4 linked regions of the Homo sapiens genome follow. Changing the gene in region 3 together with the main gene of any one other region gives a genetic interaction. Each region holds a gene or a part of one and is shown on either strand. Other genes may lie near its edges.

Region 1 (4,885 bases), on a different chromosome or scaffold from region 3:
AGGCAGGAGAATCACTTGAACCTGGGAGTCAGAGGTTGCAGTGATCCAAAATCGCGCCACTGCATTCCAGCCTGGGTGACAAAGTGAGACTCTGTCTCAAAAAAAAAAAAAGAAAGAAAGAAAAAAAAGAACTAAAAGAACTGACTGGACATGGGAATGTGGAGAAAGGGTTGTAAGGAATGACTCCTGAGTCCCTGAGCTGCATGACTAGGGAGAGGAGGGGATGGTGGTTAATTCACCATGACAAGGTACGTGGGGATTAGAGACAGATTTGGTGAAGTGGGGGAAGATTCATCCAGTTGATCATTCATTCAACAAACACGCATGGAGGCCTTACTGTGTGGCAAGCAGTGTTATAGACACTGGAGATAAAGTTTTGAACAAAACAGATAAAAACTGTTGCTCTTATGGAACTTTCAGTCTAGTGGGGATTGAGACAGCCAATATCAGATGGTGAAAAGGGATTTGGGGGAGAGAGAGATAGGGAGTGGGAGGGAAGGGGCTTGCAAATTTTGAAAAGGGTGCTCAGAGAAGGCCTCAATGAGAAAGTGACATTTGAGCAAAGACCTGAAGAAGGGGAGGGACCAGCCCATGTAGCTATTTGCGGGGGAAAGAGTCCAGGCAAATGAAACAGCAAGTGCAAAGGCCCTGAGGCAAGAGACAGCATAACAAGTTCAAGAAGCAAAGAACACAGAGTAGCTGGAGCAAGGCAGCAAGGGGGAGAATAACAGGAGAGGGATCCAGGAGGTAACAGGGATACCAGGTTTTGTAGGGCCTTGTAGACCATCCAAAGGGCTTTGACTTTGACTCTGAATGAGACAGGAGCCATTGGAAAGGTTGGGACGAGGATGGGCTGATCAGACTTCTGTTTGATTGATATCGCACTGGCTGCTGAAGGAATTACAGACAGGTGCGGGAACAAGGATGAAATAGAAGCAGGAGAGCAGGCAGGGGGCTATTGCGATTATCTAGGCAATAGATGAGGGTAGCTTGGAGCTGGCTAGTATTGGTTTCAGTTATATTTATATTTTCCAAATATTATCATAAAAATATTCAAACGTAGAGCCAAGTTGAACTTTACAGTGAATACCCAGGATTCTGGTTATATTTGGAAAGAAGAGAGTCCATGGGACTCACTGAGCGAGCAGAGCCTGTGGGATATCTTGGGAGGGTTGCAGCAGGCAGTCAGGTCATTTGACTTGGAACTAGAACTACAGCCCTGGTCTGCAGCATCACACCAGACCCAGATGCCTCAAAAGGATTATATGTTAAGGACAGTCTGCTGGTCTGTTGGCACCTAACCTTTTTTGGGTTATGAATCCAATAAACTATGAGCAGTTTGAACCTTTCTCAGAAAATGCAAAGAAAATTATTTGTAGTTTTAGAAGAATCATGAATACAGACAATAAAAGACATAAAATGTAGTCTATTTCACTCAATTACAAAATATTCAGTGTTGCAGAACCATTGTGGGTAAACATTCCTAATTTTTAGTGAACATATAAAGACCCCGTGCCTCACCAAGACGTCCTCCTGTCTTGCCCCCAGAATTCCTGTTTCTCCATCTGCCTGGTCTATGGGCAATGCACAGAATACGTAATGAAGAGGGGAGCAGTGAGTATTGGGTTACACAATTCCCTGGAACCTGGAACACACCCTTCTGAGTACTGTGAAGATGTGGTCCCCAAGGCTAGAGCTGAAAAGAGGCTTAGGGCCGGGTGAGCCTTCCAGCCAGGGCCTGCCTCCAAGTGATGCTCCCCCAGGGCAGGGGGCATAAGGATGGCACCCAGCCAGGTGGGAGCCTGGGCCCTGCCCAGCCTCAAAGCTTTGAGCTCAGGAAATCCGGAGGCAGGGGAGGGGGACATCGTTGCCACATTCCCCAGCCCTTTAAGACCCCCAAGGCAGGAAGGCTGCCCGGGCCTCACCAGCTTCCCTCACAGGCTCCTTCCTGGGAGGAAGGGGCTGCCTGTGCCCTCGAAGGCGCAAGGGAGGGCAGGAGGGAGGCTCGGAAGGTGTTGCAATCCCCAGCCCCCGGGCCTGTCAGAGGCTGAGCCATTAACGACAGAGCTCGGGGAGAGAAGCTGGACTGCAGCTGGTTTCAGGAACTTCTCTTGACGAGAAGAGAGACCAAGGAGGCCAAGCAGGGGCTGGGCCAGAGGTGCCAACGTGAGTAGGGGATCCCTAGAGAGGGGCTGAGCCTTGGGCTTGATGGAGAGCTGGAATCCTGGGGCCACTCCCCACAGCTCTGCCAAGTGTTCATGTCCGGGGTCCTAGGCCTGGGGCCCGGGATTCGTCCTTTGGAACCCCAGCCCTGGACACTGAGTCTCTTTTCACAGGATGCCCCTACTTTTGGGGGTATTGCACCAGGGAAGTCACTCACAGCCAAGTATCTCCTTGGGGACACTGAGCTGGGCTGGGGACAGGCATAATCATTCTCCCCTCCCCATGCCTCTGTCTCTCAGGACGTGTGTGTCTGTGAGTTCCAGCCGCGCAACCCCTCCCCGTCTGGGTCTCTATTTCACTCTCTGTTTCCATCTTTCCTCCTCAGCTTCTCTCTGGCTTGCTATCTCTCTGAGTTTCTCTGTCTCGCATATTTCCTGCTATCTCTTGAATCTTAAACTCTCGGTAACAGACGCTTCCCGGGCTCCAGGCCTCCGAGTGCCCCCCCCCCGCCCACTCTCTGGGTCGGCGTACATTGGGCCCTTTTTCTCTGTCTCTCGATATCTCTCTGGCCTCAATCGTCCTCTTGGCGAGTCTCTCTGTCGTTTCAGTCTGTGTGGATTTCAGTCACCGCCTCACTCTGTCACTCTTCCTGTTGCTCTCTCTTTTTCTTTATCTGCAGCATATCTGGAAATGCCTCTCCCCTCTGTTTATTCCCAGCCCCCTCCTCCCTCCCCACCCTTCCCACAGAAAGAATCTCGAGGTGAGAGTAGAAACAGCAAGGGAGCGAGGGGTGTGAAGTGGGGAAGAGAGTGTGAGGGGAGAGGGCTGAGCGTGATGAGGGAGAAACAGAAAGAGGGAATGTGAAGGCAGCCAGCCCAGGAGACATCGAGCTGTGCTGGGCCACAGGAGTGAGCACCTGCAGAGCCCAGCAGAGATGGCCGCAGTGACAGGAGGGCCAGGGGGCCCAGGAGTTAGGAGGAGAGGATCCAGAAAGGGGGCTTTGGAACTGCGCAGTGTGGCACAGACAAAAGCAAGGTGGCAGTCCTGGGAGGTGTGACCACACAGGCTGTGAGGGAGGCAGGGGTGAGGGGAAAACTGAACTGTGCTGGATTCTGTGAGCTGCTGACCTGCTATTTATGGCTCGTGAAAATAACCTATGGTTGCTGAGTGCCAACTCCATGCAAGGCACAGGGCTAAATGCCTTTACCAAAATAATCTCATTTCATCCTCACAACAACGCTGAGGAGTGAGTGCTAATGTTATTTCTTTCCCACAGATGGGGAAACTGAGGCTCGGCTCGGAAAGGTGAAGTAACTTGTCCAAGATCACAAAGCTGGTAAGTGGCGGAGCTGGAGATCAAGTCAGGTGACCTGAATCTGAGCTGGGCTCCAAACCTCTCTGCATATCGGCCCCCCAGAGAGTGAGACCATGCTCCAACAGGTCCTAGGCCCACTTAACCAGGCTGGGGGACGTCCAGGGCTGCAGTGGAGGACCAGAGACTGAGGCCAAGCAGGCCAACACCCAGCACCCAGGGGAAGGATGCCGGGGCCTCTTGGGGTTAGGTTGTCTACTCTGGACAGGAGCCAGTGGAGGCGGATAGGGTGGTACTGCACGGGGCATAGGCTGGGCCTGAAGCTGACCCTGGCTAGGGCAACAGGGCTGGGATAGGATCAAAAGCACATGGAGATGAAAACCAGTGTCCCAAAATCTGGGCCTTGGAGGCTAAATCTTCCCCAACCAGTGTTGCGGGGGGATAATCAAACTGGTATGCTATAGTAAGAAGGTTACCAACCACCGATGGGTAGACAGATGCTCGGGATACTTGTACAGGTTTCTCACTGCACAAAACTGAGGAGTAACTGGAGCCGAAATCCAGGCTGTTCCCTAGTTGCCAGGTCCTAGTGTGGTGCTGCATCCATCCAGAGGAAGGGGTGCTTTCTTTCTGATTTGCACAAAGGAGACTTACGGGCTAGCAGTCACTGGGTATTCCGATACTGCAATATATACATGGATAGACTGGGGGTTTGGGTAAGACCCCTGTGAGCAGTAACAACCTTGGGTATCTGGGCAGTTCTTATCCACACCTCTGTCTGGGAGGAAGAGAAAAGGATTCTCCTACCTTTCTCCCTGCTGAGCACGAGGGATCTGCTGGGACACCACCTGCGTGTATGTGTCCAGATATGTACGTGCAAGCTGACCAGCGATTCCCACTGATCTGCCACCAAGAGCACCAACTCGTGCTGGAGGATCAGGTGTTGGCTCCAAGACCCCAATGGGAGCAGGGTGAAGATGAGGCTGGACACCCACCCAAGTGGTAGAAACCTCTGCATACTTCCTAAGACTGGAGCCAAGGCACCCTCCATCCAGGTGCTATGGCCGTGACCTCATGATGCCTGACCCCAGAAGGCCACCAGAGGTCTGTGCCCAAAATTGGGGGCACACTGGACCCTTCGGGTGCCCCACTTGATATTCTCTCAGCCCACATGGCTGAGGCAGCCAGCTTCCTGCAGGCATAACCTGACAGCCCCTTGCCTCAGCTGCTCCATAGAGTTCTCCCTTTCTTCCAGGGAGTGTCCCTGACAACACTGGCATGGCTTCCCCAGGAGAACCTGCCTAGTACTCATGCATGCCCAACCTGGATGTGCCAGGGAATGAACACCCCAAGAGGCATCCCTTGACCAATGGGGGGCAGGAGTCAGTGGGTAAATCTTTCCATCTTCCC
Region 2 (4,304 bases), 5.0 Mb from region 3:
AGGGATGTTGTGGCAATAAGTAAGATTATGTATGAAGTATTGAAAATGGTGCCTGACAGGCGGGAGTTGCTCAGATTGTAGCTCACAGGAGTAATTACATGTACAAATAGTGTTTGTCTGGAAGGCTCTGCCCAGGCTGTCCTTGCCTCTTTGCTCTGACCCTGAAATGAATTGTAAGCTTAGGAAAAGGCTCTTTGGCAGTATTTGTAAGAACGGGGTCAACAAGTTCTAGGGAATCTCAGAGTAACTGAAATGGTGGCTTGGAAGGTGAATTTCTGGTTATCTACCCTGAATGAGCCTGGCTTTTTTGTTCTTTTAGACATTGCACAGAGTAGGCATCCAAAACAGTTGTAATTTTTTCAGCCTTCTCTCTACTGTATTTCTATATATTTACTTTCTCCCCTTTTCCATTCCTGCTGAAATGCCACAGTTCATAATCCTTGTCCTTACAATCTTCAGGTTTAGTGTGAAACCCACTGCCTCCATGAACTCTCCTGATGATTTCTTTATCAACCTGGGAAGTGTCATGAGAAAGAATATGGAAATGAGTTCCAGCCTTGAGTGCTTGGAACAGTGTATCAGCCTCTAGTGCTTTTTACCAGGGCAAAGCTGTACTGATGCCTGGTTTTCCCCCGAAATAGCTTCTCAGGGTTGCTTGCCTGGAGCTTTGTTTTAAAGGGAAAACAGCATAGATGGTGGTTAAAGAGCTCTCACTCTGGAGTTGTCCTGTTTTACTTCAATATTTTGGGCACATTCCTTAACCTGCAAGGTCTAGTTTTCTCACCTGTAAAATCGGGACAATCAGGTTGTATTTGATGGTTAAAAAGTTAATGCACAGAAAGTACTTAGTACTGTGTTGGCATAGAAATCACTGTAATATTAGCCATTACTGCTTTTTTTTTTTTTTTGATTCTTCATGGTTTTATTTCTCTCAGAACTTTAAAATGTGAACATTCTATAATTCAGCCAGTCTTTACTTCCAGGTAACTTCTTTATTGGGTCGCAATACCCTTTTAAATAACATGCTCTTGTTCCGGAAGGTAGTTAGCCGTTCATCACTCTTTCTGTCTAAATAACATCCAGTGACAAATCCCATAGGGACAAGAACATGAACCCAGTGGTCCCGCACAATCTGAAGTAAGTTCACCATGATAGCTGCAGCCTCAGTGCCGACCGCGACCCCGAGACCAAGGGCAACGGGGAACTCAGCCACCCACGCCAGTGCTAGCCATTACTGCTTTTAATACTTAATTATGAGTTCTTAAGTGAATATTTTAGGGCAAGGGACCTGTGAGTGTTTTCATTCCATAAAGTGGAATCATACGATATGTATTCTATCATATCTGGCTTTAAAAAACATTATGCTTGTAAGAATCGTCCACGTTGAGTAAACCAGTAGGGCTTTTTTTTTTTTCATTGCTTTTAGTATAGAATAGAATAATTATAAGTAGAAAAAATTATCTCCAGTTGGTAGGAAGAGGTGGAAAATATGAAGCCCTGAAACAGATGGACCTAGATGGAAAATTTTGACAACTATTCACAGGCAATTATATTAGATTTTATTTATTTTTGCTTTAGATTTCAGAAAGTTTGTGATTTAGCTTATTCATCGTGTTTTGTATATTTGGCAGATACTTGTGTTAGGAAATACAGTATGACAAGAAAAAGATGTTACTTTAGAAGTTAGCTGTTGACAGAGCCTTGGAAATTCTTAGTTACGCAGATCTATTGTTGGAATTAGGTGAAACTTTAATTTGGAGGCAGAAAGGTGATCAGTGCCCACTTTCTTGCCTCTTTCACCCAAGCTGAGGCCTGAGTTGGTTTTCATGGACAGTAGATGTCTCAACTATGTCTTGCAGGAAGCCTTTGAGTTTAAGAAGCCAGTAAGACCTGTATCTCGTGGCTGCCTGCACTCTCATGGACTCCAGGAGGGTAAAGATCTCTTCACACAGAGGCAGAACTCTGCCCCAGCTCGGATGGTATGTGCTCTGGCTTTCATAGGGGAATTCCTGACAGGAAGAAAGGATTAAAACACCTTCTTTCATCCAGAATTGAAGGCACTACAGTAGCACTAGCTGTTTTTACCTTGACTTTGTCTTTTGAAATTAGACTGTCAAGCATTCTTGGTGGTTTTGCTGTGTCTGGAGAACAGACAGGCGGTAGTAAGAGTGGGAGATGGTGTTTGAAATATTGGAGTTGTGCAAGGAATAATCGACCTTGTTAATCTGGGAAATCCTGGGTCATCCTAAATGTATGTATGGTGGGATTATATCTCTTCCTATTTTTTTCTTTTTTTCTTTTTTTTTTTTTAAGGGCTTTCTGGCAAAAACCGGAAAGCCTGCGAGACAAATTTTAAAAGAGCCGTAACACTAGATCTCTTACTTAAAACTTGGTCTTTACTATGCATTCTAAGTGCTTCTCAAGGAACTGGAGAGAGAGCACTTGACTTCTTCCAAAGGTGGTTTGTTAAGAACAGTTATGGGCCAGGTGCCATGGCTCATGCCTATAATCTCAGCACTTTGGAAAACTGAGACAGGAGGATCGCTTGAGTCCTGGGCAGCATAGTGAGACCACATCTCTATTTTTTTTATTTTTAATTTTTTTAAAGAACTATTATGGATTACAGTGAATGCTCAGGCTGCTGGGCAGTTTTGGGGTCACTCGTTTCAGGGCTATGTATTTGCCAGACAGGGACTGTCATTACTTCCAAAGTTTCCTGCTGTTGGTCTGAATTGGATTAACTGATAGCATCTATAGATTGGAGAGGCCCAACTTGAGCAAGATGACCACATTTGGCTTCCAGGTTTACCTAGGATCTTAAATCTGAAAATATACCTTTCCAATCTGCTTTGTGTTCTGAGGTTCAGCCAGTATTGTTACTCTGTCTATCATTTGCACAAAGCACTTTTATATGTTCTTGTCTTGTGAAGTGGAGTTAATCCACTTGAACAGATTAGGAAAGTACCACTAGAGAGGTTTGGATGATTTACCAAAGGATATACATAAGTAGGAAACCAGGATTTAATGATCTCTGGCTGGGTGTGGTGGCTCATGGCTGTAATCCCAGCACTTTGGGAGGCCGAGGTGGGAGGATCACATGAGGTCAGGAGTTCAAGACAGCCTGGGTAACATAGTGAGACCCTATCTGTACAAAGTTAAAAAATAAGCTGAGTGTGGTGGCTTGTTCCTATAGTCCCAATTAGTCGGGAGGCTGAAGTGGGAGGATTGCTTGAGCCCAAGAATTCGAGGCTGCAGTGAGCTATGATCAGACCACTGTACTCCAGCCTGGACAATGAATCCCTGTCTCAATAAACAATCTCTAAATTCCCAAGTACACAGTAATGCTTTAAGAGTTGGGTATCAGAAACAATATATTTGGTGTGTGCTTAGCGACTAGAGCCTGTATCACATCTGCACCTAGGAATCCCAGAACATACCTCACAAATGTTGGTGTGATATAGTGTGAGCTTTCGTGATAAAGGTACTGCCCCATAATAAAGTTATCTACCCCTAGGCTAAAAAAATTTGCCATTTCCCAGAGTGTGCACTTGGGGAGGACTAGAGACTGCTCAGAACTTGTTTTATATTGTGAAGCAAAGCTAATGCCAGAACCAGAATAGGCCAGCTGCAGAGAGGATTCCTTGGTGCATGATCCACTCAGAAAATCAGAGGGCCACTTAACTAACAACAGATTCATACCCCAAAGAGATTTGGATTTTAAGGATTACTTGTAGGTCATAACATTGGGACTACCCTGCTACTGTGAAAAAAATAACTCTAAACTTTTTTTTCTGGATTTGAAAGTGCCTAGAAAATAAATAATTCAGTATTAGCAGTGTTTGTATTGGTAGGATTTATCTTCAGGTGTGGATTTATGAGCAGTTTTTCTAAATTTTCTATATTCCATGTTTAGAGGTTTCCCAAAAAAAGTATGACTATAGGTTGGCTAATGAGGTACCGCCATTTTAATTCCAGGAATGGTTTTCTCCTAGGGAGATAGTGTGGTGAGAAGAGTTTGGATTTTGGAGTCAAACAGATGAGGTGTATAATCTTGGTAACCTCTTAAGCACCAGTTTCCTGATTTGCTAAAGAAAAAGGAAAGGATTAGCTACCTTTAGTGTATTGTGAGGCTTCTATTGGATTATATGTATAAAGATTATATCGTAGTATCTGGCACACAGTAATTCCTCGTTTAAAAACTGAGCATTTAAATCCCAAGTCTAAAGAACGAGGATAGATTTTATAGAAGGAAGTTACCCTTTATTCCCCCCTGTCAGAACTGGAGTTATATATAAGTGCATTCT
Region 3 (5,061 bases):
ACATTTGCATGAAGGCCCAGCAGTTGGCTTCCGGGCCAGTGCTGCCAAAAGTGGGAGTGGCCACCACCAGCTTCCTGGGACAAACGTGTCCTGACAACCAGGTTGGTACTATTTGGTGTTTATTTAGACACACAAATAAACCTGGTGGTTCAAACAGCTTGTGCTCCTTTTTTTTTTTTTTTGTCATATATATATTTTTTTGAAAAAGATCAACATATCACCAGTCCCCCATGGTTTTTCTCTACTGAGCAATATATACAGCCTATTATATATATATATATGTCTATGTATATAATATATATTTTCAATAGATAACTACATTCAAGTAATGAAACACAGGATTTACAATTTCCCTCCGAAGGCAGAGGAAAAGCAGATTCACACACAGTTCACAGAGGAAGTACCATGAGAGCCCGGCCAGACGGCAGCCAAGGACGCTCTGGGGGCAGGGGCGGGGCCAGCAGCAGAAGTCACCACAGTCCCACTGGTGCTTATCGTGGGGAGCGGGCAGGTGTGGGTGGAGGGCAGGGCTAGCCTGATCTGTCCAGGAACCTCAATCTTCCAGGAGGTGCTCGAATTTGGGGTTCACAAAGGAGAAGCCAGCGAATGCAGACTGGTCCATGGAGTCGATGAGGTTCTTGTCGCTGTAGGAGAGGCGCGCCTTCTCGTTCAGGAACTCCTGGTCAAAGTTACTGTAGTCTCTGGGTGACTTCTACAAGCAGAGGGCAGGGGTGAGCGAACAGGACCTAGGGAATGGCCCTCCAGACACCCCAGGCTGGAGTCCCTGCAGGGCTGGGCCAGGCCAGAGCTGTCCTCACCCAGAACAGAAGACAGAGCCTCCCCTAGCAGCCTGAAAGGAGCCCCATGGGAAGGAGGCTGCCATTTCCCCAAGAGGATGAGGAAAGTGACCAGGGAGCTCTGGGCCTGGGTTAGGAGAGGTGGTAGCCTCTTGCTCAGAGACCACCGAATCACAGCCCAGGGAGGCTCACTTACCACCTGTTTTTGTGGGGACCACAAGCTAAGAATGGCTTTCACATTTTTAAATGGTTGGAAAAAAAATCAAAAGAAAAATATTTCATGACATGAAAATTAGGTGAAATTCAAATTTCACTTTCCATAAATAAAGCTTTTGTAATACACAACCATGCCCATTTGTTGACATACTGTCTATGCCTGCTTTGAGACCATCAAGCCTGAAAAGCCTAAAATATATACTATCAGGCTGTTTACAGGAGAAATTTGCTGATTCTCTGCTCCTGAGGATATGATGGGATGGTAATATAGAAAGACCGCAAGCTGGTGGCCCTTCAGCCAAACTGAACTGGCAAGTACAATCATTTCGGCTTGTACTGGGTTTTAATGGAATTTGAACCTATATTTTATTTATTTATTTTTATTTATTTATTCATTTAGAGATGGAGTCTCACTCTCTTGCCCAGGCTGGAGTGCAGTGGCACGATCTCGGCTCACTGCAACCTCCACCTCCTGGGTTCAAGCGATTCTCCTGCCTCAGCCTCCTGAGTAGCTGGGATTACAGGTGTGCACCACCGTACCCGGCTAATTTTTTTTGTATTTTTTGTAGTAGAGACGGGGTTTCACCATGTTGGCCAGGCTGGTCTCGAACTCCTGACCTCAGGTGATCTGCCTGCCTCAGCCTCCCAAAGTGCTGGTGTGGGCCACTGTGCCCGGCCTGAACTTATATTTTAAAATTGAGCAATGCAACCTAAAAATCCAGATTTCCAGCTTCTTTTGAAAACTGGCAGATTAAAGCAGCCCTGGGCCCACTTCCTGCCCACTCTTGGTGCTAAGAGCCCCCTGGACAGCCCCTGCCCCACTGACAAGGGGTACATCACACCTGCTTTGTGTTTCTTAGTGCGGAGAAGGAAATCTATCAAAAGTGAGACTGAAAGCAGGCTGTGTGATTTTCTTGCAGCTGGCCTAGCCTGTCAGTTACATGCTCAGCCAGGACACGTCTGAGTTTGAGGTCCCTGGTGTAGGGGAAGTGCTCTGTAGCCTCAAAGCACAAATGTGGGGCGCATTACACAGGCTGCCCAGTGGGAACTGTGTGCCCTGGTGGAGGAGGGGAATCAAAGGACAGAAGGGGAGTGGGAAGGAAGAACTGTGGTCACAGAGGGGCCACACAGCCCCAAATTTCTTAGTGGCCCCACCTGCCTCTGCTCTCAGGCTGGTTCCTTGGTAGCCCTGTAGATTCTGGGCCTGTGAGTGAACCAGCCCCTCTTCCACCTGGAATGCCTCCCAGCTGTCCCTTGTCTCACTTCTTCCAACGGGGCCTCTCAGACCCACCCTCTTCTCTGCCACCTGGGTTCCTGCTGACAGACCCACTCAATAGCAACGGATCATGTGTCCTGGGGCATCTCTTATACTGTCATCTCGTATCACAAATTGTCATAGGTGTGCAAGTTTCTTATCTCTCCAACTAGCTGAGAGCTCCTCCGGTTCTGGGACTGCATCTCCCACTTTGCTGTGCAGCCCAGCACTGTGCTCTGCATTCAACAGGGACTCAGGATTCCCCATATGTATTGGAAAATGGATTGAATGGAGCGATAAAGTGAGGTCTTAACTCTATTTCCCAAAACAGGGTCCTCTGCATACAGTGGGATCCACAGTCCCCAGTGTGTGCTGAATGACTGAGTCAGGAGGGAGAGGATGAGAATACAAGGGCAGCGGCTGTGACTGAACATGCTATGGAGATTGCTGGAAGAAGGGAGAGGTGGAAAGCGTGTGAATGATGCAGGAGAGAGGGAGGGCAGGAGAGGAGTAGCTCAGCCTGAAGGCAGCACAGGGCAGGATCACATACCACTTTGGGCCTGAAAGGTGGCTCCAACCTCCGCTTTTCCAGCAGAGTCCAGTTTATGGTCTTGAAGAAGGGGTGGATTTTGATGTTTCCGGTCACTCCCAGCCTCTTGGTTGGTTCCCTTTCAAAGAGCTGCAACCCAGCAGGGACCCTGGTTAGCACCCAAGGGCCATGGGAAATTGGAGCTTCAGCAAATCCCCAGCAGGCCCAGGGATGCAAAGCCAGGCTTGCCCCAGCCCCAGTCAGCCTGGGGAACGGTGGGGCTGAGGGAGGCCACTCTGGCCTGCAGTGCTCCCAGCTCCCCCGGAGATGACAGGCTCTGGGCTGGACATCTGCGACTCTGCTGGTGGAACTTTTTATTATTTACTATCTGCCTGGCCCACAGCTGAGCATCATATGTTTCTATTTTCTTCCCAACAACTCTGTGAGTCAAGTCTGCTCATAGCCCCATTTTACAGATAAGGAGACAAACTCTGAGAGGTTAAGTGACCAGCTAGTCCCAGGCAGAGCCAGCATTTGGCCTCGGGTCTGTCTCCTGACCCTGGGCCCTTAGTCACCATGTCAGGCTGATTCTATGCACAGGACTCAGACAGGAGTTCCTGGGAACATGGTGAGAGAGCAATACCCCGTATGTTAGGACTGCAGCACCACTGAGGCTGCCATTCCAGAGACAGGAAGCTCCTCACCCAAAGCCCAGTGTCTGCCAGCCCCTGCCCCAGCCCAGCCCAGACCAGCCCAGCCCAGCCCAGGGCCTCCACCTTCTCCAGGATGTCCTTGGACTCCTTGGTGATCCAGCGGGGATAATGTGGCGTGTCCACACGGATGGACTCGAAGAGTTCATCCTCATCATCACCATGGAAGGGGGACTGGCCAATGAGCATCTCGTACAGAAGGACCCCGAAAGACCACCAGTCCACAGAGAATGTGTACTTCAGGCCCTGTAGGATCTGGCGGTGGGGAGAGCAGCAGGTCAGCAGGAGCTGAGGTGCTGAGGCTGAGAGGGGCCCCTGGGCACGAAGCCTAGCCAGGCCGCCTCAGCCTATGGGCTTTGGCTTGGACATCACTGCCCTTGGGAATCCTTCCCTGGCCCACCGTGGGGAGGCAAGGTGCCTGACTGAGCGGGGGGCTGGAAGGGTATCGGCTCACCTCAGGGGCGATATAGTCAGGGGTGCCGCAGAAGGTGCTGGCCCGGCTCTCCCCGAATATGTTCTCTTTGCACATCCCAAAGTCGGCAATCTTGATGTGGCCATCCCGGTCCAGCAGCACATTGTCCAGTTTGAGGTCCCTAAGGACAGGGGACAGGTAAGAGTCAGCAGGGGACATTTCTTCTCCTTCCAACCCTGCCCCCCATGTCCTAATTTTCAGCCGTATTAGTCCAGGACTGTCCCCAAGGGTACAAGGGAATGAGAAACAGAAAAGGAAGCAGAAGGAGAAAGAGATCCTAAAAACAGGTGCTTCTTGCAAGTCCCCTACTGTGTGCTAAACGCTGGGCATACACTGCCCTACTTCCTGAAGCCCAAATGGGGCTCAAACAGGTGATGTCACTCGCCCAGGGTCCCCTAGCAGTCAGCAGCAGAAGTGACCCCCAGGTTCAGGTTTGTCTACTTCCCACAGGCAGAGACCATGTCTATATTTAGTAATTAGTCATTTGAGTATATACTTAATGCATATGGGAACTAGAAATGGCAAACAGTACAAAGTCTACCTTCCACTGAGCTCAATCATGAGGCTCTCCTTAGAGCAATTCTAGGCGTGGACAAGCATATGGCAGCATGCAGCTCGCTCCCACCTTTTTTTTTTTTTTTTTTTTTTTTTTTGAGACACAGTCTCATTCTGTCACACAGGCTGGAGTGCAGTGGCATGATCTCAGCTCACTGCAACCTCCGCCTCCCGGGTTCAAGCAATTCTCCTGCCTCAGCCTCCTGAGTAGCTGAGATTACAGGCATCCACCACCATGCCCAGCTAACTTTTGTATTTTTTAGTAGAGACAGGGTTTCACCATGTTGGTCAGGCTGGTCTCGAACTCCTGACCTCGGGTGATCTGCCCACCTTGGCCTCCCAAAGTGCTGGGATTACAGGCGTGAGCCATCGCGCTCAGTCTCCCTCCCACGTTTTAAAGGCTGAATGCTAATATTCGATATACACTTTCCCACAGGTTGTTTTTCCACTTAACAACATATCTTGGCATTATCCCACATCAGTATACAGAGCCTGACCTCAGCCTTTTTGGTGGGTGTACAGTTCCC
Region 4 (4,304 bases), on a different chromosome or scaffold from region 3:
CTTGGGAGGCCAGGTGAGGGGAAGGAGGGGTTGAATCCAAAGTCCTGGCAGGAGTGTCACCCAAGAGATGGAAGACATTGGGAGAAGAAGGGACAAGAGCATGAGGGCACCTCTCCAGCAACTCTTCCTGCCTTTGCTGACCCTGTCTCCTACCCCAATCCCGCCATTGGCGGGCTTCTGGGGTCTTGCCCAGGGCCCCACAGGACACAATGCTGGTTTCTCAACTTGCTCAGTGCTTTATTGAACCAAGGCCCTAACAGATGACTCAGCAGGGCCTTCAAGCACAGCCCTGCCCCCATCTTGAGATTCAGAATCCAGAGGGTGCTCAGTCCTTGGTTTAGCTGCTTCTGTGACATTTCCTCTTGAATAGCTCCAAACCCTAAGTGTAAATATTTTTGTCCACACAAATAGGCACACATATATTCCTGCTGCAGGCTGTCATGCTCAACAAAACGCTCCCACCTGGTTTGGGTATGCAAGGCACTGCGCATCCACGGCCATCCACGGCCATCCACCCATCCATCCAACCTTCCATCCATCCGCAACAAGACAGCAGCAAGTTCTGAGCAGTCAGGCCCCAGGGTTCACAGCAGTAGGGGCTGGGCTTCCAGCAGGCTCATGATTCAGGCCTTAACCCTTGCCCTGGGAGCCCCCAAGGATAATAACATCCCTTTCTGGGGCAACAAAACTGGGACCGAGTGGGTAACTGATATTTGACAGGGGAACCTAAACAGTCTACGGAAGTGTCCTGAGATGGGCGTAAAGTCAAACAGACCAAGCACACAGGTAACACTGAAATAGGAAAGAGTAAGAGCTTCTGTTCAGGCTGGAGGTGCTCGTATGGTGGGACAGGAAAGGGGAAAAGAGAAAGGGGCAACATGGCAGACATACCACGGTTCCTACAGAGATTAGGGGCAGCCCTGGCCCGGGAAGTACACAGGGCAGAGAGCTGACTCTCAGGCCAGGAAGGAGTTTAGCTCTGACCCATCCTCAGGGACCACGGCTCTCCCCCAGCCTCAGCTGACACACACACAAAGGAGCGTTTCAGGACACAGGAAGATGAAGGGTTAACCCTAACAAGGAAACAAGAAGCTCCTGGAGGACACAAAATACTGCCTTTAAGCTGGTATTAACCCAACTTAACTAACTCAACAGACTGGGCTCTTCCAGGGGTGGGGGGCACCAGGATATGGAAAATGATGGGATGACACAGGGGAATCTGGGCTGGGGCAGACAGGCAGGACACCCACACCATCTTTCCCATGGACAGCACCTGAGGCCTCCAGCAGGCCCTCAGCCCGGCAGGCCCATAGGGCAGCTGGCTTCAGGCCTCGAAAGGCAAGGGAGGTAGCAGGACTGGCGCAGGCCCCTCACTGGTCCTGCAGCCGGCTACAGAGCTCCCGCCGGCTCCGCTCCCCAGCCCAGCTGCGAGTCTTGAGGCGGAAGGTCTTTAGCTCATCCTTGAAGGCCTCGTGGTTCATGGGCCGGTAGTCCTGGGGTTCACAGAAGTTCTAGGGCAGGACAGGAGGGGTCAATGCAGTGGAATGGGTAAGTTTGGCAGGGACCCAACCCTCCCACCCCCCATCCCATGGCTCCAGCCTGGCCAAGCCAACCCTCACACAGAGACTGTGGCCTTCCCCACCCACGCTACCGGGTGCTGAGGGAAGAACTCCTTGTAGCCGCCTTTCAGGATATACATCTCAGGGTAGTAGAGGCTGGGGTAGTCGTTGACAGCACGGTCTCGTTCCCTGATGAAACGGCACCTGGGGCGTCATGGGCAGGGTGTGGTCAGAGTGGGGCATGCAGTGGCTTGTACATCATGGGACCTATCCCCCACGTCCCCTCCTTTGAGGGCCTTGGGGAGCCACAGAAAGCTTTAGAGCACAGGAATGTAACCACAAGAACACTTTTAGGTCACTCTGGCTACAGAAGAGGGTGGGGAGGCGGAAGGAAGGAGGTAAAATCAAGGGGATGAACTCTCCGTTTCTAGAAGGCAGTTGCACAATCTTTGTTAGAGATATCTGTGCCTGGACCAGGAAAGGAGAAGCAGGAGAGGAGACAAGTGGGCCAAATTCAAGGGATCCATTCGGGCCACTCCTGGACAAGACCTGGTGAGGATCAGTGGTGGGGAGAAGGGAGGAGGAGGACCCAAGACTGAAGCCAGTGCCCAGGCCCGGTGCCCAGGTGGAGGTGGGTGCCATATGCTGGGATGCCTGGAGAAGTTGGGAGGGCCGCAGGGATGCGACTCTGTAAGGGGCGTCTGGGTGCAGATTCCCACCACATGGGTGAGGCCAGGCTGGGGAGCCACTAGCAGTCATATGGACCAGTGGCAACCCAGGAGGAGGCAGGGGTGGGAGGACAGATGGCCAGGCAGAACAGGAATAGCGACAGAAGGAGCTCAGCCAGGGAGGCCCAGGTGCTGTGGATGCCAATGGAAGAGGTTCTAATGGAGACCTAACAGCACTGAACATGGGGAGGGTCCGTGTACTGGGGACTGACACGCGGCCCTTAGATTTCGAGAAAAGACACCGCTAGAGACTTGGAACTAAATTTTCTGAGGGTGGCAGTAATGGATGTGGGGTGGACATGAGGCTTGATAGGCAGGACAGTGAGGGAGATGGGAGGCGGGTACCATGCACAGTGAAGTGGGGCTGAGGTCAGCTCTAGGCCATCAGATGGGACAGAGGAGGACCTGGACTTGCACCCCTGGCCATCTCAATGGTGCCAGCACCTGTGAGCCTGGGCAGGGAAGGCCAGGGCAGACACTAGCTGGCTGGGCGGAGCTGGGACTCACATGCGGGGCCCACGCTCAGATGAGAATTCACAGTGGAAAATGAGGATGACTCTCTTGTCCAGGCTACAGGGCGCGATGGGGCTCTTCAGTAGGAAGCTCTCGGCGTCGCGTTCCAGGGGCAAGTTCACCGCAGTCTGTCAGAGGAGCCAGAGGTCAGGCACAGCCCCGGGTCCAGGAGTCAGGGCCCTCCCCGTGCAGTCGCTGTCCTTCTCTTAGTAGGAACCCTCCCCATGAGAGGGGGCACCCGTCCTCCACCCATTCACCCTCTTGGCAAAGCAAGGACCTAAACCAGGTGGGATCTTCAGGGCCTCTCCCCATTGCCCCATCTTACCTTGATGTGCCCGCCTTCATATTCATAGGGGTATCTGCAGTCTACAATCACAAACTTATCCACGATGTTGCTGAACTTGCCCGTCAATAGGGCCACCATCTGTAGGAGGTCATGGGGGTTGGTTCCGGCAGGTCAGGCTGGCAGCTGGCAGGTGGCCCTAGCCTGTCCCCAGGGAAGGTCAACAATGGAGCTACAGTCCCAAATCTGCCTAGAAAATGACGCAACGCTGTTTACCGTTTCTGGTGAGATGTACTTGAGGTCTTGGTGCTTTCCGTCTACTGTCTGTAGGAGGAAGGCCTGAAGGGAACGGAAGGGATGAGGGAGAGGGGAGAAAGTTAAATTGGTAAGACCAGGAGCCTCAAAGAATGAAGTTTCATTCCCAAAATCAGAGGCCACACCTGCTTTGGCCTTCAAATTCAGTTCTGGTTCCCATGGCAACTGAGAGGCACCTCTTGGGTCTGACACCCAGGGAACAACCTTCCAAGGGGAAAGAGAAATGAAAAAGGGAAGTGGAAGAGATGAACTCCACACTCTGCTCCCTACCCTCTGCCAAGCCCGAAGGTGAGGCATGAGGGGGTTCCAAGCTAGGTATGAGCTTGGAAATAAGACGGAGACTCAACAGATGCCTGGACTGACTTGAGGTGGAGTCAGGAGACAAGGAGGGCCAGAGGGAGGAGTCTATGTGAGAACAAAGGATGAAAAGATACAAAGGACAAAGAAAAGGGGGGCTCCGGGGAGAAAGGGAGGAACCCAAGCAGCCCCTGGGCTAGAGGACCCCTAGTCAGTAAGAGGTCAAGCCCCCAAGGTACCCCCTTCGCTGCTGCAGGTACCTTAGAGTAATCTCCAATCAGCTCTCGGTGGTCACTGTCCAGGAGGTTCTCGATCTCATCGTGACACAGTGATTTTGAGCGGAGGACGCGGGCTTTCTGGAAAGTGAGTCAGATGGAGGCCAGGGTCAGGGTGGGGCTGCCCCCCAGTGCTCTGGCTGGCTGGTACCCCCTTTCTCTGCCATGCCCAGGCTGCCACCTGCCCTCTGCCACAAACTTAGCCAAGGGGGTGGCTGCCCAGGTGCATGCCAAAGTGAACCCCAGGAGGAAGGCACTCACAGGTTCCTCAGCCTCCTGCTGCTCCTCAGGAGGGGTCACGCTCCGCCTCCGCTTATTCTGCACGGGCGTGTCC

Evidence for each region.
Region 1: changes in PRKCD (region 3) and CSF3R together harm fitness more than expected from each alone (negative genetic interaction), as found in Homo sapiens cells (one large-scale study listed by BioGRID).
Region 2: changes in PRKCD (region 3) and CDC25A together harm fitness more than expected from each alone (negative genetic interaction), as found in Homo sapiens cells (one large-scale study listed by BioGRID).
Region 4: changes in PRKCD (region 3) and CDC25B together harm fitness more than expected from each alone (negative genetic interaction), as found in Homo sapiens cells (one large-scale study listed by BioGRID).

What each region holds. Positions count from the first base shown.
Region 1 is NC_000001.11:36,480,092-36,484,976, reverse strand, and holds the start of CSF3R (granulocyte colony-stimulating factor receptor isoform a precursor), read left to right. Parts: upstream 1-2,063; 5' UTR 2,064-2,166; intron 2,167-3,439; 5' UTR 3,440-3,499; intron 3,500-4,885. UniProt on the Homo sapiens protein: Receptor for granulocyte colony-stimulating factor (CSF3), essential for granulocytic maturation. Plays a crucial role in the proliferation, differentiation and survival of cells along the neutrophilic lineage.
Region 2 is NC_000003.12:48,178,396-48,182,699, reverse strand, and holds part of CDC25A (M-phase inducer phosphatase 1), read left to right. Parts: intron 1-903; exon of another isoform or gene 904-1,223; intron 1,224-1,859; coding exon 1,860-1,979; intron 1,980-4,304. UniProt on the Homo sapiens protein: Tyrosine protein phosphatase which functions as a dosage-dependent inducer of mitotic progression. Directly dephosphorylates CDK1 and stimulates its kinase activity. Also dephosphorylates CDK2 in complex with cyclin-E, in vitro.
Region 3 is NC_000003.12:53,187,759-53,192,819, reverse strand, and holds the end of PRKCD (protein kinase C delta type), read right to left. Parts: intron 4,101-5,061; coding exon 3,962-4,100; intron 3,763-3,961; coding exon 3,574-3,762; intron 2,948-3,573; coding exon 2,819-2,947; intron 713-2,818; coding exon 554-712; 3' UTR 103-553; downstream 1-102.
Region 4 is NC_000020.11:3,802,028-3,806,331, reverse strand, and holds the end of CDC25B (M-phase inducer phosphatase 2), read right to left. Parts: coding exon 4,232-4,304; intron 4,052-4,231; coding exon 3,956-4,051; intron 3,603-3,955; exon of another isoform or gene 3,524-3,602; intron 3,423-3,523; coding exon 3,360-3,422; intron 3,225-3,359; coding exon 3,126-3,224; intron 2,929-3,125; coding exon 2,795-2,928; intron 1,764-2,794; coding exon 1,652-1,763; intron 1,512-1,651; coding exon 1,371-1,511; 3' UTR 217-1,370; downstream 1-216. UniProt on the Homo sapiens protein: Tyrosine protein phosphatase which functions as a dosage-dependent inducer of mitotic progression. Directly dephosphorylates CDK1 and stimulates its kinase activity.